7 separate regions of the Homo sapiens genome follow, and regions 2, 3, 4, 5, 6 and 7 are each linked to region 1. Evidence: fine-mapped expression QTL. A gene starts in region 1. Each other region holds a variant in brackets. All regions are shown on one strand. Distances are between the middles of the regions.

Evidence for each region.
Region 2: its variant is fine-mapped to the expression of IGFBP7 in whole blood (TOPMed, PIP above 0.99).
Region 3: its variant is fine-mapped to the expression of IGFBP7 in whole blood (INTERVAL, PIP 0.95).
Region 4: its variant is fine-mapped to the expression of IGFBP7 in whole blood (TOPMed, PIP above 0.99).
Region 5: its variant is fine-mapped to the expression of IGFBP7 in whole blood (TOPMed, PIP above 0.99). The same link has a PIP of 0.9 or more in blood mononuclear cells, monocytes and monocytes after Pam3CSK4.
Region 6: its variant is fine-mapped to the expression of IGFBP7 in caudate (GTEx, PIP above 0.99).
Region 7: its variant is fine-mapped to the expression of IGFBP7 in whole blood (TOPMed, PIP 0.99).

What each region holds. Positions count from the first base shown.
Region 1 is chr4:57,108,175-57,112,239 of GRCh38, forward strand. It overlaps IGFBP7 (insulin like growth factor binding protein 7), which reads right to left and starts at 2,211. Exons shown (of 5, transcript NM_001553.3): 1 at 1,703-2,211. The coding sequence starts at 2,177. It overlaps IGFBP7-AS1 (IGFBP7 antisense RNA 1), which reads left to right and starts at 1,588. Exons shown (of 5, transcript NR_034081.1): 1 at 1,588-1,796. RefSeq lists a silencer at 2,280-2,349.
Region 2 is chr4:57,154,506-57,158,570 of GRCh38, forward strand. All of the region lies in intron 1 of IGFBP7-AS1 (IGFBP7 antisense RNA 1), which reads left to right. Among named protein-coding and RNA genes, the nearest start is that of IGFBP7, 46 kb to the left of the region's middle. RefSeq lists enhancers at 2,286-2,795, 2,796-3,304. The variant G/A (reference allele first, on the strand shown) is at 2,273.
Region 3 is chr4:56,994,776-56,998,840 of GRCh38, forward strand. It overlaps POLR2B (RNA polymerase II subunit B), which reads left to right. Exons shown (of 25, transcript NM_000938.3): 5 at 1-91; 6 at 476-634. Among named protein-coding and RNA genes, the nearest start is that of POLR2B, 18 kb to the left of the region's middle. The variant G/GT (reference allele first, on the strand shown) is at 2,484.
Region 4 is chr4:56,976,686-56,980,750 of GRCh38, forward strand. It overlaps NOA1 (nitric oxide associated 1), which reads right to left and starts at 921. Exons shown (of 7, transcript NM_032313.4): 1 at 1-921. The coding sequence starts at 900. It overlaps POLR2B (RNA polymerase II subunit B), which reads left to right and starts at 2,211. Exons shown (of 25, transcript NM_000938.3): 1 at 2,211-2,319. The coding sequence starts at 2,301. RefSeq lists enhancers at 154-213, 594-663, 2,485-2,584 and a silencer at 414-493. The variant C/T (reference allele first, on the strand shown) is at 1,864.
Region 5 is chr4:57,049,007-57,053,071 of GRCh38, forward strand. The region is part of intron 1 of IGFBP7 (insulin like growth factor binding protein 7); the gene reads right to left. Among named protein-coding and RNA genes, the nearest start is that of IGFBP7-AS1, 59 kb to the right of the region's middle. The variant G/T (reference allele first, on the strand shown) is at 2,174.
Region 6 is chr4:57,085,069-57,089,133 of GRCh38, forward strand. The region is part of intron 1 of IGFBP7 (insulin like growth factor binding protein 7); the gene reads right to left. Among named protein-coding and RNA genes, the nearest start is that of IGFBP7-AS1, 23 kb to the right of the region's middle. The variant C/A (reference allele first, on the strand shown) is at 2,044.
Region 7 is chr4:57,042,073-57,046,137 of GRCh38, forward strand. All of the region lies in intron 1 of IGFBP7 (insulin like growth factor binding protein 7), which reads right to left. Among named protein-coding and RNA genes, the nearest start is that of POLR2B, 65 kb to the left of the region's middle. The variant G/C (reference allele first, on the strand shown) is at 2,081.

The sequences.
Region 1 (4,065 bases):
AGTTTAAGGTGATGATACTATAAATAGTTACTAGTGAGTTACACAATTTAAGGCTTTCAATAGTGAACTCTGAAATTGATGACATACAACCTATTAGTTTGTGGACTTCTGGGAAAAGCTCTAAAGAAAGAATTTGGAAATTCTGGAGAAAGTCTGAACTGTGTTAAAGAAGCAACAGCTTCTGTAACCTCAGAACTGCCTCCTCTCCCTTTTCTACCTTGGCTAAGATCAGGAGCTGCCAACATTGAATGTCTGACTTTCCCTTGAAAATACTGCCAATGGAAAATGTTATTTCAGGCATTAGAGTTAAAATTTCTATGTGTGTGTGTATGTGCGTGTATTTGCAAGTCCAGACTTTATTTTCTTCTTTCTTTCTTTTTTTTTTGAGATGGGGTCTCTGTCTGTCACCCAGGCTGGAGTGCTGTCATGTGATCTCGGCTCACTGCAACCTCCGCCTCCCAGATTCAAGCGATTCTCCTGCCTCAGCCTCCTGAGTAGCTGTGATTACAGGCATGCACCACCATGCCCAGCTAATGTATATATATATATTTTTTATTAGAGATGGGGTTTCACCGTGTTGGTCAGGCTGATCTCGAACTCCTGACCTCGTGATCTGCCCATCTTGGCCTCCCAAAGTGCTGGGATTACAGACGTGAGCCAACCCACCCGGCCTATTTCCTTATTTCATTTACAGCAAGCTTGGACTTGTTTGGAATAAAATAAACAATCAAACATAATCTCAAAGACATTTCTGCTGAACAGTGTATCCTGGGGACAAATTATGCAAAACAATACAAATCAAAGAAATAGGAAGGAAAAACAAAATGGTCAGAAGGTTGACAACAAAGTGCATCACAAAAACAGTCTTCAAAGAGTTTGTATTTTATTTTTGCCCACAAATAATTAGCTAGTTAGATTACTGTTTGAGAACCTATAATTTTTAGAAAGTGGACTATTTTCTTCAATACTAAGAAATCAGGGCTGTGCACGGTGGTTTATGCCTGTAATCCCAGCAGGCCGGGATTACTTGAGCTCAGGAGTTCGAGACCAGCCTAGGCAACATAGTGAAACTCCGTCGCTATAAAACAAAACAAAACAAAACAAAAAACCAAAAATTGGCCAGGCGTGGTGGCACAGGCTTATAGTCCCAGCTACTTGGGAGGCTGAGGCAGGAGGATCGCTTGAGGCAGAGGTTGCAGTGGGCCAAGATCGTGCCACTGCCCTCCACCCTGGGCGACAGAGCAAGATCCTATCTTTTAAAAAAAAAAGTCTGTCTGGAAGTCCTTACTTTATATTTAATTGTCAAACTCCTTTCCCCCATCTCTTGACTTCACCTCTCTCTACATCCCCAAGCCAAGAATGATGAGAAATGGACAGATGTTAGCACGAGTTGGGTGCGCTTTGGGCATGGGGAAGTCTGAGGTCTCGGAAAATCTTTTCTACATATACACCCGGCCCTCACTTTCTGGACGCACGCAGCAAACTCTCAAAATAAAACCACCAAAAAGGAGAAGGGGGGGCGTCGCCCACCGCTCCTGGCATTCCGCGGCTGCCAACTCTTTCCCTCCCATCTGGCTCCTGGGATGCCCGCGGGGGAATCGCAGTGAGCAGCGCGGGGCGAGGCCGCCGCGGACGCCCCGTCGGATGTGCCCTTCGCTGGGCCGAGCGGCGCAGGGTTGGAGAGGGAAGCGCTCGTGCCCACCTTGCTCGCAGGTGCCCTTGCTGACCTGGGTGATGGCCTTCTCCCCGCGGCTCTCGGCCCTCTGGCTGGCGGCGCGCAGCTGGCAGCCGCTCGGGTAGGTGGTGCCGTCGCTGCCGCACACCGGGTAGCGGCTCTTGCACACGCACACGCCGCTTACACCCGGACCGCCGGCTGCTGCCCCGGCTTTACCCTTCCGCCTCTTGCGGCTCTTCACGCACTCCATGCCCGGCGCGCAGTACCCCCTGCCGGCGCCGCCACCCCCGCACGGCTCGCCCTCGCCGCGGGCGCACATAGGGCAGCAGCCGCACGCGTCGCGGGTCTCGCCCAGCAGGCAGCCCAGCGGGGGCAGGGGCGGGCAGGAGGCCGGCTCGCAGGGGCCGCAGGTGTCCGAAGAGGAGGAAGAGGAGAGGGGCAGGAGCAGGAGCAGCAGCCCAGCGGCGCCGAGGAGCAGGGCGCGCAGCGACGGCCGCTCCATGGCGGGGTGCGGTGGCAGCGGCAAGGGCGCGAGTGAGCCGTGTCGGGCCGGCCGGCGCCTTAAACCCGCCGCCCCGCCCGGCCTGTCCGCGGGAACCACACCCCGGGGCGGTGAGAGCACGGGGGCCCCGCCCGTGCCGCCCTCCCGGCCCCGCGGGGCCTGCGCGCGCGCTCCTGCTGGCGTCGGGGGGTGAGCGGGCACCCGGCGTGACCGGCCCATGGGCGCTCGGTCTCACGCCCGCTTCGCAGAGCTCACCCCGCCAGCTCCTGCTCGGTCCCCAGTCCCCTGCCCCGAGCCCTCAGGGATCGCACCGCAGTGCGAGCGGCTCTTCCACCCTCTGGTTTCTCCCCGTTTCCGGTCAATATATTTAAACTTCTTAACAACCACGGCTTCGAGACGATCCAGGGTTTCATCTATTAAATCCTCCGTGGGCCTGAGACACCTGAGTGCTCATTACTCTGTGGTTTGGGAAGCTCTCTTAAGAACAAGCTGTTAAAAACCCCCACTTGTGGACTGTGTCCCCGCTGGCCACAGGCCTGCTGTGGTCTTGGGTGTCAAGCACTAAAAGGACAAACCGTTGCCAACCACTTCCCTTTCTGGAACCTCTTAACTGCCTGCACCTCCCTCCCCGCTTTGTCTCCCAGTGGCATTCAACAAGACTCTGTGCTTTTTTTGTGCTGAGCCGTTTTCAGTGAGTACTGGAATCCGTGTGAGAGCTGTGCCCTTGTTTTGAGTTCTTGCTGAACTGCTCGCCCTCCAGCAAGCCTCTCGGGAGAACAGAGCGCAGCTGAGAGGAGCAGGGGTCCCAGCTCCTTCCTCGTTGGAGCTGCCACGGAGGCACCTAAAGCGCCCCCAGTCTTCACCAGCATTCCAGGAGGTTTTTGATATAAACGGTGGACTCTTCCTCAGTCTTTCTGCGAAGTGCTCTGCAAACTCAACTTGAAAGCCTCTCTTCCCAGGAACACTGGCCTCTCCAATGCAGACATGGAAGTTGCTTTCACTTTTTAACTGAATGTGTAACATTGCAGCGTGCATTATTCTGCATGTCACATTGTGGTTCTTTTGTGTTCTTTTTTCTTAGCATAAATCCAGGGATTTACAGGGTTGCTGACTGAAAGCCAGCAGTTCAGTTCATAATCCCATTAGCAGTGTAAAGAACTCATTCTCAACAGACTCTTACAAGGATAATTATTGCAAATTTTTTGAAAATTAAATGACCACAAAATCGGGGGGTGGAGAGTGGGGAAACATCCTCCAATCCAGAAAAACCTAGCACTGCTTTTTGGCCTCTCCTTAGTGTATTATAGACAAGTGGAGCATTTTTTTTCCCCTCAAAGGTCATATGTTGACCTGACAGTTGTTTAAAAAACAATGAAAAATCTTTACAGCAGAGTTTCCCTAAATATTTTTGTCTTTGTTCCATCCTAAGAGATGCAGTTTACATGACCCATTTGTTTTCTTGAAAAGGAAACAAATGCAGAGTGCACTCTATTTCCTATTGTATTTAATTTCTTTCTTTCTTTCTTTTCTTTTCTTTCTTTTTCTTTTTTTTATTTTTTTGAGATGAAGTCTCCCTGTGTCGCCTAGTCTGGAGTGCAGTGGTGAGATTTTGGCTCACTGCAACCTCTGCCTCCCAGCTTCAAACAATCCTTCTGCCTCAGCCTCCCGAGTAGCTGGTATTACAGGCATGCACCAACATGCCCGGCTAATTTTTGTATTTTTACTAGAGACAGGGTTTCACCATGTTGCCCAGGCTGGTCTCAAACTCCTGACCTCAAGTGATCCACCTGCCTCGGCCTCCGAAAGTGTTGGGATTACAGGTGTGAGCCACTATGCCCGGCCCTGATTTCCTTTTTATTAATTCACTGGTCAAGAGCCACTAAATTGG
Region 2 (4,065 bases), 46 kb after region 1:
GCTTTGTTTCCTGTTCTCCTTGGCTGCTGAGCCAAGTGAAAGCCTTCTTCTTTGGTAATAGTCATTGTCTCAGTGATTGGCATTCTGCGTGGTGAACAGCAGGACCTAGACTGACCTTTGGCATTGGGGTAACAGTGGCTGATGCTACTGGTGGAGGAACCACACCTTGAGAAGCACTGATCTAGGCACCTTCCACTCCTCTCAGTCTATAGATGGGAAAATGGAAACTCGGAGAGGTGAGGGGCTGGCTCGCGGTGACTCTGGGAGAAAGCAGAGGAGCTGGGGCTAGAATCACCTCTCCTGGCTGCTTCCCTGCCCTCCCCTTCTCCCCTCTTCTCTTTCCTCTCCCTGCCCGCCCCTTCCCTTGCCTCCTCCTCTCTCCCCCATTTTCCTCCCCTCCTCTCTCTCTTTCCCTTTCCTTCCTTCTGTAAAGGAACTGACCCCTGGTCTGGTTAATGTCAAGGTTACAGAGTAGAGTCAGGAAAGAACCCAAACCTCTTGACTTCCAGGTTGGTGCTTACCCCACGTCTCAAGTTTCCTGCTCCTGGAGAAGCAAGACACCAGGAGATTATGGGGTTTCCCTCTCAGTAGCTGGATCTTTCTGAAAGTGTTTTTCTTTGAAGGTGAGAACAAAGACAGCCTGCATTATTAGGCAGGATGTCCCTGAGACACATGACAGAGGGAGGCTGTCAGCAGTAACAAAGAGGCTCTCTGGTTTGGGAAAAAAAGGTGCTTGTAGTTGTTGTGGGAGACGAAAAAGCGTTTCTTTGACTTTCTTATATTTAGTACCTGGGGGCCTTCAAATTAAACTAACAAAGACAGATTAACAGCAGGAAAAGAAAAGCATACAGTTTTATTCGTATTTTACGTGCATGGGAGTTCACAGAAAAGAAGTGAAACTCAAAGAAGTGGTTAGTTAGGCTCCAGGGCTAATATCGCATTTTAACAAAAGAAAGGGGGTTTAGGCTTCAGAGGATGAGACAGGGTAGGGAAGTGACTGAAAAATATATGGGAGAACTAATGGAAGATAAAACCTTATTTTAGTGGGGTCTGTTTTTGCAGACTCCTCTTGGTGTCAACTCTCTGTCTCTGGTGATGACTGCTTTTGCTCCCCGGTATTGGGGTGAAGGGTGGGACACTTTCACAAAGGGAAATTTACACCCTGCTTTTAGGCAGACAAGAGGAGGGCAGAGAACTCTTCCTGCATCTGTTGATTCTCAATTGCCTTCAGCTCAAAATAATCCTTATGCCAAAGTGGCACGTTTTGAAGCGGCATATTCTGGATCTCTTCATTGGATGGAGGATTCACAGACTTGCCAACATCAAGGGTGGTGAAATGTAGATGCATGCTAAAGCAGTGTCCCAGTGTCACAGGGTGAGGGAATCAGGGCCATGCTCATCCAGCCCAGGGGAAGCTAAGCTTAGATTAAAGGGACTTATTTAAGAGCCTAGTAAAATTAAATTTCAAATGATTTTTATTAAAAAACTTACCTTAATTGTGTATTATATTTTAGAGTCTAGTATTTACTGATGTTGCTTAATGAATAACTCTATTTTGGCTTTTAGAAAATATCTGTGTTATCCATACCTATGTAAAGGATAGTTATTTTTACCACTAGATAATTAGTAAGTGACTATTATCTACCTTATCTTATCCCAATTACAGGCAACATAACTAGGAAGAAATAAATGGCTTCGGGCATGCTGGACTTGCGAACACAAATTTATGAAGTGACAGCTAGTGTCATGATGCTCCTGCCTCAAGATGACCTCCCAACCCAGAGCCCGGCTGCTTGGGTGAAACATTTTCCCCTCCCTGAATTGTCTTGCAAAATGTAAACACACATTGTCACTCCGAAGGAGTTAGTTTATCAGATTTCTTCCCTTGGTGATAGGAGGGATCTAGGGCAGGCTGAGCAGGGAGGTGAGGTGGAGGATGACAGAAGCACAGACAGGGATGCCTGGGGCTTGTGACTCACCCACAGGAGTACAGCAAGTGCATGTGAGACGCTTCTCAGGATTTATATGTTAGCTTTTCTCCCCAATTTTGGAAGGCAAGGAATTGTAGTCAGCAATCGGCCAGGTGAGGGGAGTATTTTTGGTGCAAGGGACTGTCCAAGGGATACTGACTGCAGTGTCCTCCCATCTTCACTGTTTTCTTAAAGGGACTCACTCCTTCCCTGATTTTCTGGTGTCCTCCAGGTTCATCAGCAGTTATTTGGATGGTCTTCTGATGTGCAAGCCCAGCGTGGTAGGATGTGGTAGAAAGGGC[G/A]TATCACACACTGATGCTGCATCAGCTCAGTTTAACCTCAGTTCTACTGCCATGTGACCCGAGGGCCAGTTATAAACCCTCTTAGAGCTTTGGTTTCCTTAGATGCAAAAGGGGACAAATTTATATATATGTACACACACATATATACACACATATATATGCACACACATATATATATATATAAAAAATATATTAGTGCAGATTAAGGGGGTAACATGTAAAGTATCTGGTACAATAAAATCTAGGCCATTGCAGTGTAGGTTTTTGGAAGCTGATGCTGAGATGGAGTTTGGGTTGCAAGACATTTATTAGGGATCAGCTCCTGCGCTTAGAAACGGGGGGAAGCAAGAACTGGGCAGAGGGACAGGTTGAGCTGTAATGTGGGCCCCGGAGAGCCTTGGCCAACCCGAGGAGCCCTGCAGTGAGTATTGTCCATCTGCATTGTCCCATGAGGGGCTGAGATGGCCAGCCCTTAGAGCCTTGCTTCACTCAGTCACCAGACCTGGCTCCCTGAGAAGGAGGTGTTCTAGGGTGAGGCAACTCCAGCTGCAGAGGCAGCCCCTGAGCTGCTGTCAGAGGCTGCCTGCTCTGGCCACCTCCTGCAGCTGCACAGCAAGTGCTTCCTGAAGGATGGTCTGGGTGGCTCATTTTCATGCCTACCACATAGGCATCCAACAGACATGTCTCCTCCCTGCTGCCAGAACTATCCTCTTTTTTTTTTAACCTTTTCTCCACCTTCTTTCTGTTCTCCATCTGTCCTCTTCTCTTGCACCTGCTTCTTCCATCCATCCTCTCCACAGTCCTGGGAGCTTGTGGCTCCTCTGCAGGGGCCCTAGAAGTGGTGCGTGCCTTTGCTACTCTCTCTGCCAGTCCCACTGCAGCAGGAAGCATCCGACACATTTTTGTCTCACGCAGATAATGTACAAGTTACCCATGACTTCTCTTTTACTTTGGTAGAGGGAAGAAAAGAACCAGGCTTTATTCTGCAGAATAAAACAACACAGATGCTGGTGAATGCACTGTCAGCCCATGCCTGCCAGCTGGGACCAACAATAGGAGAGGAGGCACTGGCTGCATCGCTAACAGATTTCCAAGAACGCTATGGGCAGCCAAAAAAGCCATTTGGGCTTGTTTCTTTTTCCTCTGTTGCCTTTCTGAGAGATAAAGAGGCTGATGGATCATAAATGGAGATATGAATTTGATAACATTTGGAAAGAGGTTAATGGAAACCAACGTACAAACTACAGAATAGGAGAACACGGCAGATTTCTAAATGCCAATAGCATTTAGAAGCTGCTCTTAAAGAAAATTTGAAGGTGAGCAGGCGGTGGGCAGAGGATCTGAAGCAGCTGCAAGGGCCTCACATGAGTTTGGAAATGTCTTCCTAATGTGATGGATCCTGGCATCATTCCACGCAGACGCCAGGTAGGTGTCCCTGTCCACAGCTCTCTGAGCTCCTGGGATAATTTCAAAACAGCAGAGAGTGAGGGCATGTGCATCATTTGAGCACATCATAGAGGGCACCACTGATTCGCTGCACTGGAAGTTTGTTTGCTCTATGTGAAATCTCTTATGTCTGGCCTAGAAGCCTGCATCAAGGAACTGGGAAACACCACCGGCTCCCTCTGTGAGTGGCAACCATGAAATCCACCCTCCAGTGGCCTCTTGTGGACTGTGGACTAACTTCCTTCAGGGGTCCCAGGAAGTCCTAGGGAAGTGGAAACTCCCTTCCATATCCCACTTCAAGACTCAGCCATTGTGCAGAAGAGGCCAATAGCAAGACCCCAATTTAG
Region 3 (4,065 bases), 110 kb before region 1:
TTTGAATGGCTTGACAGATCGTGATCTTTGTGAGTTAAATGAATGCCCTTTGGATCCTGGTGGCTATTTCATTATTAATGGATCAGAAAAGGTATAGTAACATTATTTTAAAAAATTACAAAATGGTAGTTAAAATTTAGTTTAAAGTTGAAATGAAAAAAAAAAAAAAAAGAAAGAAAGATTTTCCTGCAGGATAACCTGGCACTGACAGTTGACTTGTTTAGGGTATGACAGCTAAACTTATATAAACCAAAGCTTTATTTAGCTGTATATAACATGCACTGGGAATTTGGTCAGTTTTGGAGTTTATGTATTTCTATGAAGCATTTATGCAAAATGGAGTTTGTAAAGTTGAAGAATTAAATATTTCAGTGAGCCTATATGGTCAGATTAAATTAAGATGCAGATTTTACTCTCTTTTCTCTTCAGTGATGTTTTGGATTTTATGGCTGTAACTTTCTTATTGTCCAAATAGGTTCTGATTGCCCAAGAGAAAATGGCAACAAACACAGTTTATGTGTTTGCCAAAAAGGATTCTAAATATGCCTACACAGGAGAGTGTAGATCATGTCTTGAGAATTCTTCCCGACCCACCAGTACTATATGGGTTAGCATGCTGGCAAGAGGAGGACAGGTATGGACTGGATATGATGCTATTTGGGTTTATTCCTTTGTGCTTTGTTTTAAAATTTACTAGACTGCCTTCTTTGTCCATAGAAGCTTTTCTGGAGCATATTGTTGTTATATATCGTATTGTTTACCTATCGCTGTGTAACAAATTACTCCTCTAGCAACATTTATCATCTCACGGCTTCTGTGAGTCAGGAATCTGGGTGTAGCTTAGCTGGGTCTTTTGGCCAAGCAACTCTCACAAGGCTGCAATCAGATGTTTCCCTGGGCTGCCGTAATCTCAAGAGTCATTCCCATGGTTGTCTGCAGGATTTAGTTCTTCATTGGCTGTTGGACTGAGTCCCAGGTCTTTGCTCGCTGTTGGCTGGAAGCCTTTCTTTGTTCCTTGCCATGTGGGCCTCTGCGTATAGCAGCTGACAGCAGCATAGCAGCTTGCTTCTTCAGAGAGAGTAAGCAAAAAGAGCCATAGAGAGTACGAGCAAGGTGGAAATCAGTCTTTTATAACTTAAAAGTGGTAGCAACATCCTGTCATTTTTGCCATGTTCTTTTTGTTGGTTGCAAGTCAGTATGTCCAGCTCACACTAAAGAGGGTATTACAAGGGCAATAGTAGGAGGCAGGAATCATTGGGTACCAGCTTAGAAGCTGCAGACCACTGGTATAGTTATAAGCATAGGTTGCTTATAATAATGGAACCTGGTAGTAGCTAGCAGTTCTTAAATATTTGCTGTATGCCAATTCTGTTACTCAGATTGCTTGATTTAATTTTTACAGCTATCTTGGAAAACCTCTATTTCAGTTCATGTGTGTGTGTGTGTGTGTGTGTGTGTGTGTGTATGTATATGTGTGTGTGTGTGTGTATATATATATATATATTTTTTTTTTTTTTTTTTTTTGAGACGGAGTCTTGCCCTGTCACCAGGCTGCAGTGCAGTGGCATGATCTCGGCTCAGTGCAAGCTCCGCCTCCTGGGTTCACGCCATTCTCCTGCCTCAGCCTCCCGAGTAGCTGGGACTACAGGCGCCCGCCACCGCGCCCGGCTAATTTTTTTTTTGTATTTTTAGTAGAGATGGGGTTTCACCGTGTTAGCCAGGATGGTCTCGATCTCCTGACCTCGTGATCCGCCCGCCTCGGCCTCCAAAAGTGCTGGGATTACAGGCGTGAGCCACTGTGCCCGGCCTTCAATTTTATTTAATAATTATGCATGTGTGGGATGCAATGTGATATTTTGATACGTGTATACAATGTGTAATGATCAAATTAGGGTACTTAGCATACCTGTCACCTCAAGAATGTTTTTCATAATATTTTATTTGTAAGATAAGCATTCTTCCCATGTGCACAACATTGCTGGGTATTGTTAAGAGATCATGAAAACACACAATCCTTATTGAGAAGGTGGCCAGGTGTGGTGGCTCATGCCTGTAATCCCAGCACTTTGGGAGGCTGAGGTGGGTGGATTGCTTGAGCCCGGGATGTGAGACCAGCCTGGGCAACATGGCAAAACACTTTCTCTAGCAAAACAACAACAACAAAAACCCAAAAATTAGCTGGATGTGGTGGCAGGCACCTGTAGTCCCGGTTACTCGGGAAGCTGAGGTGGGAAGATGGCTTGAGTGCTGAGGTTGCAGTGAGCCCAGATTGGCGCCACTGCACACCAGCGTGGGTGACAGAGCCAGAGCCTGTTCCAAAAAGAAAAAAAGAGAAAAAAAAGAATGGTTTTATTGGGAATACAAGCTTTAGACATTAAATGGTAGTAACACAGTGCAGAGGCCAAATGACACCTATTACATATAACAGTTTTATAGAAATTTGGAGGAGAATGAGGTTACTAGTATGGTGTGGTCCATGCAAA[G/GT]TTTTTTTTTTTTTTTCTGAGACAGGGTCTCATTCTGTTGCCTAGGCTGGAGCGTAGTGGCGCGATCTGGGCTCACTGCAACCACCACCTCCTGGCCCAAGCGATTCTCGTACTTCAGCCTCCGAAGTAGTTAGATTATAGGCATGCTCCACCACACCTGGCTAATTTTTGTATTTTTTGTAGAGACAGGGTTTCACTATGTTGCCTAGGCTGGTCTCGAACTCCTGAGCTCAAGTGACCTGCCTGCCTTGGCCTTCCAAAGTGCTGGCATGAGCCACCGCCCCTGACCAGTTCATGAAACTTAATAGAGAAGATGGGACTTGACTTACACTTTGAAAGATGGTATGGATTTATATAAGCAGAGAGAAACTGGAAGGACATTCTTATTAGAGGAGAGTGGGGATGAGTATTTGGAGAATCACTGGAAGATAGCTCTAATTGAGCTGGATGAAGTATGTTGAATAGTGAGTGACAAGTAGATGATCAGGGTGGATCTGGATTAGTGGATCTTAACTAAAGGTTCACCTCAATAACCTAAGACTCTTCCAAGTACAAAAGGGGCCCATTTCCAAATCTGCTGACTCAATAGTGAGAATGGGAGTGGAATGGGGCCCAGGTACAAGTATTTGAAAGAGGTCCCCAGGTGATTGTGATGTGCATTCTTTGTCGAGAGGCATCGGCCTGGATGACAGAGGGCAAAGACATAAACAGTATATTAGGGAGACTATCATGGCAACTCTGAACAAAATGAATTAATTAGAGACAGAGAAAGGAAAATGATCTGGATTTGATGATAGGTTTGATAAGATAAAAGGATGAGTCAATTAAGATACTATGATTTGTATTCTGAGGTTCCAGGAGAGCGGTGAACTTCGAGTAACTGATTTAGGAGAGAACATAATAAGTTCAGTTTTAGATAAGATTTTTGGGGAGTGCATGTTGTAGACATTTTTTTTCTTTAAATTTTTTTTTTTTTTTTGGAGACTAAGTCTGGAGTGGCTCTATCCCAGCTCACTGCAACATCTGCCTCCTGGGTTCAAGTGATTCTCCTGCCTCAGCCTCCTGAGTAGCTGGGATTACAGGCGTGTGCCACCATGCCCAGCTAATTTTGTATATTTAGTAGAGACAGGGTTTCACCATGTTAGCCAGGCTGATCTCGAACTCCCAACCTCTGGTGATCCACCCGCCTTGGCCTCCCAGAGTGCTGGGATTACAGGCATGTGAGCCACTGTGCCCGGCCTGTGAGCCACCGTGCCCAGCCTAAAATTTTAAAAATATTTATAGAGATGAGGTCCCACTATGTTGCCCAGGTTGGTCTTGAAATGCTGGGCTCAAGCAATCCTCCCGCCTTGGCCTCCCAAAGTGCCGGGATTACAGGCATGAGCCACTGTGCCCAGCTGTATTATTTTTTAATGTTCTGCTTGTTCTGGGATAAGATCCATGATGAAACAAATAATAGACTAAATGGAATAATTGATGTCCAGGTGGAAACAACCAATTGGCATTTGGAGATATGGGGGCTGAGGGTACAAGAAAAAGATCAAGATAAACATTTGGGTGTCATATATGAAAAGTTGTTACT
Region 4 (4,065 bases), 130 kb before region 1:
CGGATTCTCCCCGTCCTGTGGCTCGTCCTTGACGGGGCGCTGTGGCCCTTGGTGGCCAGGGGCCAGCAGGAGCCCGGCGCGGGCACAGTCCTCCCACAGTCGCTCCCGCAGCCTCTGCCGGTAGCCAGGAGCATCCTGGGGCAGGAGGTCCACTTTGTTTCCCAGCACGATCAGCTGCTTGGGGCCCACCAGCGCGGGCAAGTCGGGCAGCAGGGCGTCGGGCAGGTCCAGCAGGTCCACCATGTAGAGCACCAGGGAGGGGCCGGGCCGCCGCAACGCGGCGCTCACCAGCTCCAGGTACTGCTCGCGGCTCACCTGCAGGCGTAGAGCGCGCCGGTGGTGCGACAGCAGCCAGCAGCGCTGGCACACGGTCCGTGCCAGCCCGCCGTCTGCCTCCGCCGTGCGGAGGAACTTCTCTCGGGGCAGGTAGCCGGGCACTCCGGCGTCCTGGCAGTGCAGCTCTGCCCCACAGCCCGAGCAGTTCACGCCGCTGGGCGGCAATGCCGGGTCCGGGTGCCCCACGACCGGGTGCTCCCGGGACCTGGCCCGTAGGTTTTGCTGTCGCCGCTCCTCCCGCCGCTGCTGCCTCTGTCGCTCCTCCTCCTCCTGCTGTTGCTGGAGCTCCTGCAGCTGCTTTTCGCGGGTGGGTTGCGGCTCCGGATCCAGGATGTACTCCGGGAACAGAAAACGCTCCTGCATGTCACCACCTTCTCCAAAGCCCTCCGTGTCCACGGGGTCATAAGGAAGCTCGCGTCCCAGACTCGATGAGTGCTGGAAGGAGGAGGCGGCAGCGCACCTCCTCTCCAGGAGCGGCTCCCGGAGGCCATGGCGCGCTGCCGTGGGAGCGGATCCACGAAGGAAAAGGCTCAGCAGCCTGAACGGTAGGCGAGCGGGCAGCATGAGGAAGTAGCTCCAAAGGGGCGGAGCCACCAGCGCGCACGCGCACTAGGGTCCGAGGCGCGCATTTGACCCGAGACGAAAGCGCGTGGGTACTTGGGAGCTGTCCTGGTTGGTTTTGCGTCTAATCCCGTCAGTTCTCGCGATTTAAGCTCTGAGACTGAGAACCTACTTAAAGCTATGGCAAAGGCACTGGAGGATTGAGCTAGGTGGGCAGAAAAGAGCAGTGAGTGTTTTGGGTTTTTTCACTTTCAGGCTTAACGCCTCACTGCTAGCACAAGCCGCCCTTAATAAATCACACTTAAAAAGGAGCTTCCGGGGTCGGGCGCGGTGGCTCACGCCTGTAATCCCAGCAATTTGGGAGGCCGAGGCGGGCGGATCATGAGGTCAGGAGATCGAGACCATCCTGGCTTACACGGTGAAACCCCCATCTCTGCTAAAAATACAAAAAATTAGCCAGGCGTGGTGGCGGGCGCCTGTAGTCCCAGCTACTCGGGAGGCTGAGGCAGGAGAATGGCTTGAACGCGGGAGGCGGAGGTTGCAGTGAGCCGAGATCGCGCCACTGCACTCCAGCCTGGGCGACAGAGCGAGCCTGTCTCAAAAAAACAAAACAAAACAAAAACAGAAAGGAGCTTCCGGCCGGGCGCGTGGCTCACGCCTGTAATCCCAGCACTTTGGGAGGCCGAGGCGGGTGGATCACCTGAGGTCAGCAGTTCGAGACCAGCCTGGCCAACGTGGTGAAACCCCGTCTCTACTAAAAATACAAAAATTACCCGGGCGTGGTGACCCTTGCCTGTAATCCCAGCTATTTGGGAGGCCGAGGCAGGAGAATCGCTTGAACCCGGGAGACGGAGGTTGCAGTGAGCCGAGATCGCTCCACTGCACTCCAGCCTGGGCGACAGAGCGAGACTCCATTTCAAAAAATAATAAATAAATAAAAATAAAAAATAGCTTCGTGTTTTGGTC[C/T]TTATAAAGGCAAATAAATTGAGCATCCCAATGTTGCGGATTCACAGGACGAACACTTTTTAATAATAAGTATACCTGGTTTTGTTTTCAGGTGTCGTTATTTGTGCAACAACATTGAAAAACAAGCAGAAATAAAACATTGACGGAACGGATACGACCGCAGATTGCGGGAGCTGTCCTCTCAATCAGCCCGGCAGCGGCGGCCCACAATTTACGCGTGTGCAACCCTAACCCCGGCCCAAGCTTGACCTACAATTTGCGCAGGCGCAGATCCTAACTTTGGCGTCCCTGTGGGCGGCCTTTGGTGTGAGACGCGTGGTATTCTGGGAACGTCGGAGACGGAAGTTACTTCGTCTTTAGCTCCTGGCGCTGCTGGCTTCTGGGCGGTTTTTGTCTTTTGATTTCAAGAGTTAGGAGCTCGAGAACCGTTTGGCAATATGTACGACGCGGATGAGGGTAGGTGAACGCTCAAAACACACGCCGTGGCGGTCCATTTAAGCAGGAAAGCGTTGGGAACTGATTGGATTGAGGATTTGGGGCCTTCCCATGCGCCGGCTGCACAGTCCCCAGCCTTGTTCCCACACTTACCAGGCCGGGAACGAAACTGGGGTAGGGAGAGGCGGAGGGTGCAGGGAACATAGTGTTAATGTTCCAGGTTACGTTCACTGCTGCTCTCTGCACTTTCTCGTTCCGTTAGATCTGATCCTCGTTTCCTGTGGTGAAGTAGCGTGCAGAATCGTAAGATAAATTACGTTTTGAATTTGAAGCAAAGGGCACCCTTTAAAAATTTTCCTTAAAGCCACAGTCGACTTAACGAATAGCTCAATTGTTGAGTGTCAGCCTGTGTCAGGCAGTGTGGAAGGTCCTGGAAATATTCCGGGACAGAGAATATCGGGGGGTGGGGGTGGCGGGGGGGACTCGGTTTAGTCTGACATTTCTTCATACTGTTTGTAAGTCAAAGTAAATTGTCTTAAAGGATGACTTTTAACTTCCTCTTCTCACAATGTCACAGTTCTCAGATGATATGTATTCTGCTGCACTGGGCCAATGTATAATACCTGTTTGTTTGCGCATATGGAATTCTTAGTAGTGGCCGAGCGCGGTGGCTCCCGTCAGCACTTTGGGAGGCCGAGATGTGCAGATCGCTTGAGACCAACCTGACAAACATGGGGAAATCCTGTATCTACTAAAAATACAAAAATTAGCCTAGTGTGATGGCGTGCGCCTGTAATCCCAGCTACTCGGGAGGCTGAGGCCGGACGATCGCTTGAGCCCAGGAGGCGGAGTTTGCAGTGAGCTGAGATCGCACCACTACACCACAGCCTGAGTGACAGAGTTAGACTGTCTCAAAAAAAAAAAAAAAAAATTCTTAGTTGAGTCTAGTGTATTTTCGTAGCCGCCTTTTCCATTCTCCATATCTGCTAATTCAAACCTTATTTTCTTATAGCTCTCAATTCCTTGGCCACCCCCTACATCTCCTCTCTCTATTCCCTCAGGTACTTCTGATAAATCAGATGGAAAAAATTGAAGCAAAAGCTTAATTTTTTTTTTTTTTTTTTAAGAGATGGGGTCTGGCCATGTTGCCCAGGCTGGTCTCAAACTCCTGAGGTCAAACCATCTGCCTGTCTCGGCCTCCCAAAGTGCTGGGATTACAAGCATGAGCCAATGTGCCCAGCCAAAAGCTTAAACTTTTAAAGCTGTTTAAACTTCTGTCTCATTTATATCTTGTGTTGTAGAAATTTATTAGCATCATTATATTCCTTGTTCTTTTTTAACTACTATCTCAGTAGAAGAAAAATTCGAAAAAAAAGATTTTTAAAGCATAATTTTTGGCTGGGTAATATATTCTCATAGCTCACAAGCCAGAAAATTTAAAAATGTTAAAGTGGGGTGGCTGGTGCAGTGGCTCACGCCTGTTATCCCAGCATTTTGGGAGTCTGAGGCGGGTGGATTACTTGAGCTCAGGAGTTCGAGAGCAGCCTGGGCAACATGGGAGACCCCTCTCTATAAGAAATAGAAAAATTAGCTGGGCGTGGTCTTGCTCACCTATAGTCCCAGCTACTTGTGGGGCTGAGGCTGGAGGATCGCTTGAGCCTGGGAAGTTGACACTGCTATGAGCTGAGAACAAAGTGAGACCTTGTCTCAAAAAAAACAAGTTAAAGTGTCACGTCTCCTTCTTACCCACCATCTGCCCAGTTTGAA
Region 5 (4,065 bases), 59 kb before region 1:
TGACATTTATGAAGTTCTGAAGTCTCACTGTCTGGGTCTGGAGCTCTCATTCTCTGCAAATCAGTTCAATGCATTTCCTCACCTACCTAAACACGATGTATGTGACTCATAACATGGTTCACTTCCTCAGGGATTAAAAAAATAGAGCTTATAAAGGTATCACCCTTTACCCAGTTAGCCAATTTTTTTTTCATCTGAAAGAGCTGTGTAGAAGATATTAGGAGAAGTCATGTTTGAAAGCTAAATATACTTGAATTAAGCCTGGGAAATGGTCAAAAGTCAAATTACCCCCAATAATCATTTCTGTCCTCCAATATCATATTGTACTATATATTTTTTGCTTCGTTGCTTTCTCATTTGCCCATCATCTCTTCCATTTTTACCAATTCACTCTTCTATGTCATTTCTACCCAAACTCACTGTCTGCTCCCAGCAGTCCTGCTCACCCACCATTACATGTTCATTACCCCTTCCAGCACCTTTGCTTATGCTGATGCCCTTACCTACTTGGAATATCTTCCCTCCTCTTATTTCTTATCACACTTTATTTGACATTCTAAGACTGAAGTTTCATTTCTCTTTGACATTTTTTGCGGCCTGACAGCTTCAGGCTCCCCCTTATTTCTTCTCTAAAATCCTGTTGGTTTCGGTAAGTTCCACAGAGTGTAGTGCATCACTGTTTTCTAATGCTTTCCTTAGCTGGCCTAATTGAGGATGCCAGCATCCTGTCGGAATCAGAACAGAACCAGGAACTACGGAATCAAAAGATCTTCATGTTCATTGGAAGGAGACAGAGCTCAGGCTGTGTGAAGTGGGTATAGGGCAGCAGTAACTTCAGAACAACATAACATGATTAGCCAAACAGAAGTGAAAAGATAGCCACTGTCTTGAAAATGCACCAGTGTACACATGGCCAAAAGCGTACACCTCACCAAAGTGGTGTTATAACTATCTTATTTATCAGCTGGCAGATTATTAATCATGATTTTCTTTAATCTTTCACTTGACTTTCTCTTGCCATAAGCAGTGTTTCTTGGCTACTAACCACTCACCAACCAATTAGTATATGACCAGGAGATGCAAATTAATTTGAATATACATCACTTGAAGCAAATCCCACCGAGATGGGTAGGTCTGCTGGAAGAAAATGATTATCAATTATCCTCACACCAAAATCATGCTGGGTTATACTATTCACATTATGGTTCTCACTGAACATTTATTTTATTTTTATTTAAGTTTTTTTTTTTTTTTTTGAGACAGAGTTTCGCTCTTTCGCTCAGGCAGGAGTGAAGTTGTGCAATCTCGGCTCACTGCAACCTCTGCCCTGTGGGTTCAAGCGATTCTCCTGCCTCATCCTCCTGAGTAGCTGGGATTACAGGCAGCCATCACCATGCCCGGCTGATTTTTGTATTTTTAGTAGAGATGGGGTTTCACCATGTTGGCCAGGCTGGTCTCGAACTCCTGACCTCAGGTGATCCACCTGCCTCAGCCTCCCAAAGAGCTAGGATTAAAGGCATAAGCCACTGCACCTGGCTTTTCAAAAGTTTTTATAGACAGAGTCTTGCTCTGTCACTCAGGCAGGAGTGCAATGGTGCTACGATCATAGCTCACTGCAGACTCCAAACTCCTAGTCTCATGGGTCCTTCTGCCTCAGCCTCCCAAGGAGCTAGGACTACAGGCAAGTGCAACCATGCCCGGCTAATTAAAAAAGAATTTTTTTTTTTTTTTTGTAGAGACAGGGTCTTGCTTTGTTGCCCAGGCTGGTCTCGAACCCTTGGCTTCAAGTGATCCTCCCTCCTCGGCCTCTCAAAGTGCTGGGGTTACAGGCATGAGCCACTGTTCATGGCCTCTTGCTGAGTACATGCTAACATGGCTAAGACATTTGAGTATGGGGACTTCTCCGAGTTATGATAGATTTGCAAACAACACTCACCTTGACTCTTGATGCTGGGTCCTGAAAATAGTGTGTGCATTAATACCAAATAAGGGGAAAATCAGGGTTTAAGAAGGACCTCAGATACCACATATGGAGATAGAGAGTTCAGACAACTTGGCAAAAATCCCTAGATTGAGATGAGATTCTGATAACACATTAAAGGGAACAGGAGCACACAAAAGTACAAAACGGGAAAAGAATAGTAGGAAGGCACTATGGCCAAGATGGGGAAGG[G/T]GATGAAACAAGTGGAAGCTTCCTGATATTAAATAAGGGGAAGCAGTAACTGTATGGCTAATTAAAGAGCAGAGCCATCTGCCAAGGCAAGTCATTTAGGGAACTTCCAGAGGCGGGATGATGTAGCAGCTGAACCCTGGTATGGGAATCTAGCACACGGTCTCAGGGGTACTGGCTGAGGACAGCAGGGGAGGAGAAGAAAGTACAACAGCTTAAGCAGCATAGGCCAGATTTAATCTCAGGCTTTTAGTTTAAGGCAAATTCATCTAGTTATGGAAGCTACTGTTAGTCATTTCCACTTTAGTGTGAATGAAGAACCAATAGTTTATAATAATGGGACCCTGCCAAACACTGTTTAGGGCAAAAGTGTGTAAGAACTGCTTCCTCTTCTCTAAATATAATCTGTTGGGGTGGTGTTGGGGAGGCTTAGCGCATTAAGAGTAAGAACAAAATGCTGGGAGGTAATAGACTATAGTGACTTTGGAGCGTGGACTTGGAATCAGGAATTCTGCTCTACCACTCCTGAGTTATGCAACATTGCACAAGTTATTTCACTTCCCCTGCTTTATTCATCTGTGAAATGGAATGATAGTATCCCAGTCATTAGACCATCAAAAGGATCAAACAAGATACAGCCATTAGCACAGTACCTGGCATGGGGTAAACATTCAGTAAGTATGAGCTGTTGCTTTTCATTTCAGAAATTAGACTTTCATCAAGGAAGGTGAAAGACAGGGACCTGCCTGAGGAGAGGCAGGAAAACGCTGGCCTGCCTTGAATAGTGAGCATGCGGGCCAGCTCGGGAAGAGGATTCGTGTGTGGTGTAGGGCACAGCAGAAAGCAGATGAGGTGGGGCCTCACCCTCCAATGTGTCTCTGAAAGTGGGAGTGTCATGATTCAAGTGGCATTTCCCAAGATGATTTTGGAGGTCTCCGCATCAGGATGGGACATGGCGGGGATTAAGGCTCTAACTCAAGGTCGCAGCAATGAGAAGACAGAGAAAAGGGGAAGACTTGGGGGATTATTCAGGAAGAACTAACACTACCCAGTAACTGACTGGATGTAGGAAAGAGAGGCATGATTTAAAGGCTGTGAGCCTCAAAGGTTCCAGGAGGCTGCCGCACCATGAACAGAAGCAGGGGTGTCAGTCTGAGGAAGGTGCTGGATTGAAGAAGGGGAAAGGGTGGACTTGGGTTTAAATTTGCTGAATTTCAGGTATCACCTGGGCCATGAGGAGGCACTGAACCCCAGTGGGGAGACCAGAAGTGCCAAGGCAAGCACTGTCTAGCTGACATTTTAGCCCTGGGAAGGCTATGTGGGGTCCTTTGGGTGGAAGGAAGACAGATTTGGCACTCCCTCTCACTAGTTTCTCCAGAGGGAGTTCCATCAGCTCACTGCTGACCACCTGGCCCGTCCCCACCCCACCCCAGGTAAAGCAGATAAGTGAATAGCACGGCCTTGCTTAGCTTCCAGGCACGTATTTGCAGGGCCAGTCCATCTAAGAGCAGACCATTCAATACAATGCTGCCCTGGTGACCGCGTGCCCAGGTCTTGTGAGTTGAGTTCCTGGCTGATTGCTAGTTACCTCTGGATTAATAAGACACCTCGTTTTGGGTCCAATCTTTGATGCTGAGAATCTTCGTAGGGAGCATGAAGTCTGTTTTTCTCAAGTGGACATAGTACTCAAATATCTCACTACGATGACTGTCAATCTTGTGATATCTCACAATTATCACTGTAATTTTGAATTGACCACAGAACATGCACAGAAAGTTGCTTCTTGCAATGTGTTGGTTGCTTGCAAACAAATCTCTTATTTGATGATGCTTTCTTTTCTATCTTTTTTTTTTTTTTTGAAATGAAGTCTTACTCTGTCGCCCAGGCTGGAGTGC
Region 6 (4,065 bases), 23 kb before region 1:
GTGAGCCACTGCACCTGGCCTAGATCCTTTTTTCTTTTTCTTTAAAGTGCAGTATTGTTTTCACTAGAATATCAATAGGTATTTGTCATTCTAGATCCATATTCTCAGGTATACTGTCTGGTCTTCCAAAATGTAGTTCTACATTTTTCTTGTATTTCAGTGAAGTTTTTTGGAGTTATAATTTTTAGTGTTGGCTTGCTTTCTTGCTTTGGTTTCCTTCTTCAGTGACTCCTGTTATCCGTATGCTAGATCTGCTCTGCATATCTTCAGTGGTTGCTGCTTTTGATCATTCCTCCTTTCTTTTTAATTTAATAATTTTCCTCCTTTTAACCTCCTAGTCTTTTAAGGGATTCTCTATTGTTCTTATTCGCTATTGTGTTTCTTTTGGTTTCATTTCTGAAATAACAACTGAGATCTTCACCACATTTTCGAGTTATTCTAATTTTGGCTTGTTACTCTTTATTTGTATTATTTAAAAAATGTCTTTTAGCTCATGTTATTCAGATAGTCAGTTGTATGTAGTTTTCACCTGTTTGCAGACGTGCTTTCATTGCAGGTAGGGATGTTATTCCCTTTCTCTCTCTCACTCTTCTCTTATATAAAATTTCTTTCTAGTATGGGGTTTGGCCTTAATCTTTCTCTGTGCTTTTTTAAAATGTAAAATTGGTTTTCCACAGCCTTACAAGGAGACATTGTCCAAAATACCTTTTTGCAACTCCTCAGAACTCCATTTTGTGTTGTTTTCATTTAGTGTTAAAAACAGTAACTTGCTTTCTGTGATTTTCTGGGTTTGTTTCCCTCCTTCACTTTTATTTGGTCTTTTGTTTCATTCATCTCTATTGTTTCTGTCCTGCTCAATTTTGATTCTATTCCTAGTAGTTTTTCTTTGGTGAAGGGCCCTGTCCTGGAAGGGAGCTGTATTAGTCCATTTTCACACTGCTGTGAAGACATACCTGAGACTGGGTAATTTATAAAGTAAAGAGGTTTAATGGACTCACAGTTTCACATGGCTTGGGAGGCCTCACAATCATGGTGGAAGGCAAAGGAGGAGCAAAGGTACATCTTACATGGTGTCAGGCAAGAGAGCATGCAGAGGGGAACTGCCCTTTATAAAACCATCAGATCTCGTGAGACTTACTCACTGTCATGAGAACAGCATGGGAAAAACCTGCCTCCATGATTCAATGACCTTCCACCAGGTCTCTCCCATGACACTTGGAGATTATGGAGTTACAATTCAATGTGAGATTTGGGTGGGAACACAGCCAAACCATATCAGGAGCCCCGGCTGGGGGTTTTGAGAGTTCACGGGACCCAGGCTACTCAAGCCCCTTCCACCCTTTGGGTCCCTTGCACTCACCCACTAATGGACTTTCCAGTGAAAACCTGTTGGCTATGTTGAGATTTACCTATTATTGGATCTGTCATCACCTCATTACTGCCCTCTGTGTCTTTCCACCTAGCTGCTGACAGCCTGCAGGCTTGGTGGCATAGGTGGCTTGTTCCAACCCACTTATATTTTGGCATTTGTGGGGATAGCTTGTCACCTTTTTGTGGTAAATGTTTTCCATGGGGCTTGGGTTTTGGTATCTAGAGGATTTACGTTTTTGTTTTCTAATTTTAAAAAATTGTAGTAAAATACACATACAAATTTTACCATCTTATTTTTTATTTTTATTTTTGATTCCGAGTTTCGCTCTTGTTGCCCAGGCTGGAGTGTAGTGGCGCGATCTCAGCTCACTGCAACCTCCGCCTCCCAAGTTCAAGCGATTCTCCTGCCTCAGCCTTCTGAGCAGCTGGGATTACAGGCACATACCACCACGCTCAGCTAATTTTTGTATTTTTAGGAGAGACTGGGTTTCACCATGTTGGCCAAGCTGGTCTCGAACTCCTGACCTCAGGTGATCCACCTGTCTCGGCCTCCCAAAGTGCTGGGACCACAGGCGTGAGCCACTGCTCCTGATCTAGTGGCTCAGTTATTATGAGGAGATTGAATACAGGAGACCGACACACTGTTGCTGCTTCAGCCCCATTTAACGGTAA[C/A]CCCCTGGAAACTGGAGTCTGTGTTCTGTGCCCCACAGCACCAGGATGGCACCTGACACATAGAAAACACTCACACATTTAAGTGATAAATGAGTCATTCTTAATTCCTCTGTCTTTTGGCAGGGTGATAGGATGCTTTCTTGTACTCATTAAAGTGATTGATGGATAACATAAAAGTTGCCATTGGTACCTGGACTAATACCTTTGCAGGTCAATATGCAGCATGAGCTTCTAGATGGGAAAACACTGCCAACCCTTGAGTACCCAACTAATGAAGGGCAGGAGAGGAACAGACTATCTCAAAAGGATGCCAATTTTAAAATACTTTATATTTTGCTCTGTATAAATTTGTTGTAGCAGATTCCTTACTAACTGTTTGGTTCTGGCTAATGTTATAACACAGGAGTCCCTGGGCACTACTTGCTGATAGTGATTTGAAGGGGAGGAGTGGACCAGAGGTATATAGGAAAAAAGTAAATAACTGACACAGCTATACGCAAGGTTATATCAGTTAACTGACTGGGCATATTTGAGAGTTGTTACTACAATAGTTGGTAAAGTCAGAGGGAATACAATCTTGGATTCATAAAGGCCTAACAGTTACAAAGGCTTTCAAATCTGTGACTTCGTTTATTTCCATAACCCTAACCCTAATCCTTTAATACAGGTCCTGCTTGCTCCATTTCACAGGTGAGACAACAGAGGGACAAAGAGATTAAGCAATGTGCCAATGATCACTGTTAGTCAATGTATAGTCAGGATTCAGATGCTTGGCCAGGTGTGGTGGCTTATGCCTGTAATCCCAACATTTTGGGAGGCTGAGGCAGGAGGATTCAGACTCTTTTCTTCTAAGTTTAGTACTTTATGTTTATTTTGATACAGGGCTTTGCTTTGTCACCCAGGCTGGAGTGCAGTGGCACAATCACGGCTCACTGCAGCCTCAAATTCCTAGGTTCAAGTGATCCTCCTACCTCAGCCTCCTGAGTAGCTGGGACTACAGATATGCACTACCACACCTGGCTAATCTTTTGTTTTGTTTTGTTTTGTGGAGACAGGGTCTCACTATGTTGCCCAGACTGGTCTTGAACTCCTAGTCTCAAGTGATCTTCCTGCCTCAGCCTCCCAAAGTATCGGGATTAGAGGTGTGAGCCACCATGCCCAGGCAGTTTAGTGCTTTTTACAGCACTATTGCTGTATCTGAAAAGCATGGTGATGTAAACTGCCACAAATATAATGTTAAAATAAGGTAGGCTATAAATTGTAAGTATATAAAAATATTGAGGTTCCGACCAGTTTGGGCAAGAACAGCCCTCATTTTCTCCATATAATACCATCCAATCATTCCTACCACTCTCAGTTTCTGCTTCTACCCTTCATCCCATCTCTAGTTATCCCTCCAGAAAAAGAGGGAAGAATGAAGGTAAAAGTACCATAGTATGACATTTGAGGGCTGTTTCTGAAGCATTAGCCACTACTACTAATGATAAAAGCAACGGCCAGATTGAGACCCTATTGTGTGGCAAGCACTATGCTTAGAACCTCATATGAAGTTAATACTCTCACCAACCCTTTGGGTAAGCAATATTGTCCCCACTTTAAAGATGACAAAACTGAGGTTAAGAGGAGCAACTTGCTGGCTGGGCACGGTGGCTCACGTCTGTAATCCCAGCATTTTGGGAGGTCAAGGCAGGCGGATCATCTGGAGGTCAGGAGTTCGAGACCAGCCTGGCCAACGTGCTGAAACCCCATCTCTACCAAAAAAATACAAAAATTAGCTGGGTGTGGTGTTGGGCACCTGTAATCCTAGCTACTTGGGAGGCTGAAGCAGGAGAATCGCTCAAACCTGGGAGGCAGAGGTGGCAGCGAGTGGAGATCACACCACTGCATTCCAGCCTGAGCAACAGAGTGAGACTCTGTCTCAAAAAAATAAAAAAAAAAAAAAAGAGAGGCAACTTGTCATTTAATAATCACACATTTAGTAAGTGGGGGAGTGGGGATTTGAACCCCACCCTCTCCAAAACA
Region 7 (4,065 bases), 66 kb before region 1:
AGCAGGTATGGGGCCACTGAGAGAGGCCAGAATGATGCTTCTCCATTCCCCCAATTAGGGAACACACCCCCCACCTTCTGTATCATGGCACCCTCTGGAGAAGTTCCCTACTCAGAGTCAACACAAACCATGTGTATCCTTTTTGCTATGAAAGTGGTATGACTCTCTGGTCCTGGGTTAGCTAACTATGGCCTGTGGGCCAAATCTGGCCTGCCATCTGTTTTTGCATGGCTTATGAGCTAAGAATGGTGTTTGGATTTTTGTTTTTTTAAATTAAGAAAAATTTTATTTTTTTGAGACAGAACCTTACTCTGTTGCTCAGGCTGGAGTGCAGTGGCATGATCTTGGCTCACGGCAACCTCCGCCTCCCGGGTTCAAGCTCAAGCAATTCCCATGACTCAGTCTCCCAAGTAGCTAGGACTACAAGTGCATGCCCAGCTAATTTTTGTGTTTTCAGTAGAAACAGCATTTTGCCACGTTGGCCAGGCTGGTCTCGAACCCCTGAGCTCAAGCGATCCCCCCACCTTGGCCTCCCAAAGTGTTGGGATTACAGGCGTGAGCCACTATGCCCGGCCTGCAGTTTCAAATGGTTGAAAAAAAATTAAAAGATGGATATTTCATGACGTGTGAAAATTGTAAAGGAAATGTCCATAAAATAAAGTTCTGTTGGAACACAGCCACACTTATTTGTTTCCTGTGGTCTCTGGCTGCTAGAGCAGTTGTGGCTGAGACTGTATGGCTAAAATAGTCACTGTCACTGGCCTTTTATAAAGAAATTTGCTGATTCCTGCTCTAATCAACTGAGGGAGACTGATGCCTAAATAAGACATTATGGGAAAGTCTCAGGACTTCAATCCTTTACACATTTTCCAGAGCTGATGCAAGTAACCCCCTGGGTGATTTCTGGTTTGGCTCTGAAACACAAAACTGTGGAAGCCAACAGATACCGAGAGAGCGGGTGCTTGCTGACTGCGCCTGTCCCCTGACGGCCTGGCTTCCCGGCATCTGCAATAGAGATGTGAACACCAACTTTTTAGTTACTGGTAATTAGTATGTCACTTCTGCTAATTCTGAATGCCAGGGTTCAATCACCAGGGGCCTTCAGAAAGACTTGGGACCGTCCGCAGAGGAGGGTCATGGAGCTGGCAGTCTGGGATCCTCATGTGGGGCAGTGTGAGACTCCAGAACCTAACCTGGCTCTTATTCCATGCTTAGCATGGTTTCTTGAATGAATAAATTAATGATCCCTTCTGAATTTTAAATCTCTGCTGACTTGGGTCTCCTATCCTAGCAAAGTACAAACTGCAGGGTCATCTTGCATCAGAGTCCTGGGAAAGGGACAACCTCCCCTTTAGGACTGGAAAGTTTTCTGGCATAATCAGCATTCAAAGGACATAAAGTCTCCCCTTCTGCAACAGGCTATTTCCAGCACAATATTAATTTCTTGAAACAGAAAGGAAATGACCCCAGTGTGCAAGATTTTCCCACTCATCTAAAGCATTAGAAGCTGATTTTTTTTAATCTCATGGGATATTTTTATTTTTGTAGGAATGTGCAAAACAATCAAAAGTTTGGAAAGCTCTAAATACATTTCATGCTTCCTTCCCTCCAAACCATAGGTCTGAATAGGAAGCATATATCCTGGCCAGGGGGCTTGGCTCTTCTGCTGCAAACATGAATGTGGTGAGCACAGTGGTGCAGTATTTACGTTTCTGGCTCTGTCTCAGACATTTCCTAGTCTGGATGCAGCAATACAGAACCCTGCAAAGGGCTGGGCCTCACCCTATCCCGGGCTTCCTCTAGGGCTATGGGACCCCAAGGGTTTGGACACCACAGAGCCGGATCTGGCTGGGCTTTGAACTGCCTTCGCCCACCTCTCTGATGGCCCTCATGCTGCTCTGTTCTCCTTCCCACACACAGACTTGGCAGGAGGACTTCAAAGCTCAGGGGATCTCAAAGGATTGTTCTGAGAAGAGCATACCAGTTTTCAGAGATTTGAGGGGGAGCTCGGGAACAAAGCTGCTTCTCTCATATCCAAACCACACAAGGAATGCAAGACAATTTTATTGTGAGGATCTGA[G/C]GGCCTCAGCCCTGCCAAAACCTACTTACTTTAACCTGTGTCCATCTCCCTATTGCCAATACAGGTAGCAGGGTCATCGGTCTTGGGCAGGGGGCAGATTCTGGAGTGCTAATGGGCAAGTTCCAGCCTGATTTTCTGCCAGAGATCTTGAAGACATGCTATGGATTTTTCCCATGGGATTTTAAAACAGATGTTCTTAGTTTTAGTATAGTCCAATTTATCAAGTTTTCTTTTCTGTGGTTAGTGCTTTTCGTGTCCTGTTTAAGAAAATTTTTGCCTAGCCCAAGGCTATGAAGATCTCCTGTTTTCTTCTACAAGCTTTATGGTTTTACTTTTCACATTTAAGTTTTTGCTCCATCTTGAATTAATTTTTGTGTGTGCTATGAGGCAGAGGTCAAGTTTCATTTTTCCTCCCCTAAAAGGACATCCAATTGCTTCAGCACCATTTGTTGAAAAGACCATCTTTTTCCTAATGAATCATAATAATGCCTTTGTGGAAATCTGTAAGACCCACTGTATATGTGTGCGTCTATTTCTGGACTCTCTGTTCTTTTCCACTGGTCTATGTGTCTATCTTTGCACCAATAACTATGGCATAATTTAGAAATTAATTGTACTAAAGTTGAAGCACTAAATAGAGGGCAGATCTAATATATCTGTTCCCCCCCAATCATCTTACTATTCCAAGAAGCAGAACACTCTAGGACAAGTAAGAATTCTTTTTTTATTTTTATTTTTGTAGAGACAGAGTCTTGCTATGTTGACTAGGCTGGTCTCAAACTCGTGGGCTCAAGTAATCCTCTTACTTCAGCCTCCCAAAGTACTGGGATTATGGGTGTTAGCAACAGTGCCCAGCCATGAATTCTTTAAAAATACCTGAACCCAGGAATACTTTGAATGACAGCCATCGTCAGGGGATTCAATATTAGGACAAATCATATCATGGGTTCCTATTTCTCTCTCCCAATGCTTGGAATACCTTAGGTAAACAGGCTGAGTCAACATTTGGATTATTCTAAGAATGTAAATGATTTTGTCAATCCTGCCACCAGGCTATTTCTAGAATTCTACAAGACTTCCATACCACAAAAATCTATAATATCCACTGACTCCTGCTGGGGTGATGTAGTGGAAGGGCAGAGGAGGGGCTGTTAGGACCAGTTTGCTGCACAACATTTACAAAAACCTTTGACTATTTCAAATATCCTTGAACAAATGCTGGGTTTACTAACACAATGAAAAGTTTAACAAACAATACGTAAACTGGAAAGTGCTAAGAAATAAGGCTACAGAACGGCCTTTTGGTTTTGAGATGCAGTCTCTTGCAAAGGAAAGTCACATCAATAAATTATTAGTGTAATATTCAAGGGACCAAACAGACCTCTTAGAGTACATGGAGGCGGGTTGGCCTCCACGTGACTTCCTGTGTTGGAAGAATCTGTAGGGATTCAACATTCTTTCCAGTACTTTCTTCAGAGCTGATACCCAGTAGGATACCTATTTACTAAGCTCTGATTGGTTCTTTACCACTTACCTGGTCTGGAAATTCCCCCAGAATATGCAGAGGGAATGGAAAAACTCCTTTTTTTTTTTTTTAGATGGAGTTTTGCACTTGTTGCCCAGGGTGCAATGGTGTGATCTCGGCTCACTGCAACCTCTGCCTCGTGGGTTCAAGCGATCCTCCTGCCTCAGCCTCCCAAGTAGCTGGAATTACAGGTGCTCGCCACCATGCCTGGCTAATTTTTGTATTTTTAGTAGAGATGGGGTTTCACCATGTTGGCCAGGCTGGTCTTGAACCCCTGACCTCAGGTGATCTGCCCACCTCAGTCTCCCAAAGTGCTGGGATTACAGGTGTGAGCCACTGCACGCGACCAAAATCTCTTGATAAAAGCAAATTACAGAAGTTTTAGAGAAAGGTAAATGAAGATACATGGTGAGAAAGAATAAGCAAGCGACTTAATGGTGACCCACAGGGACACCAAGAG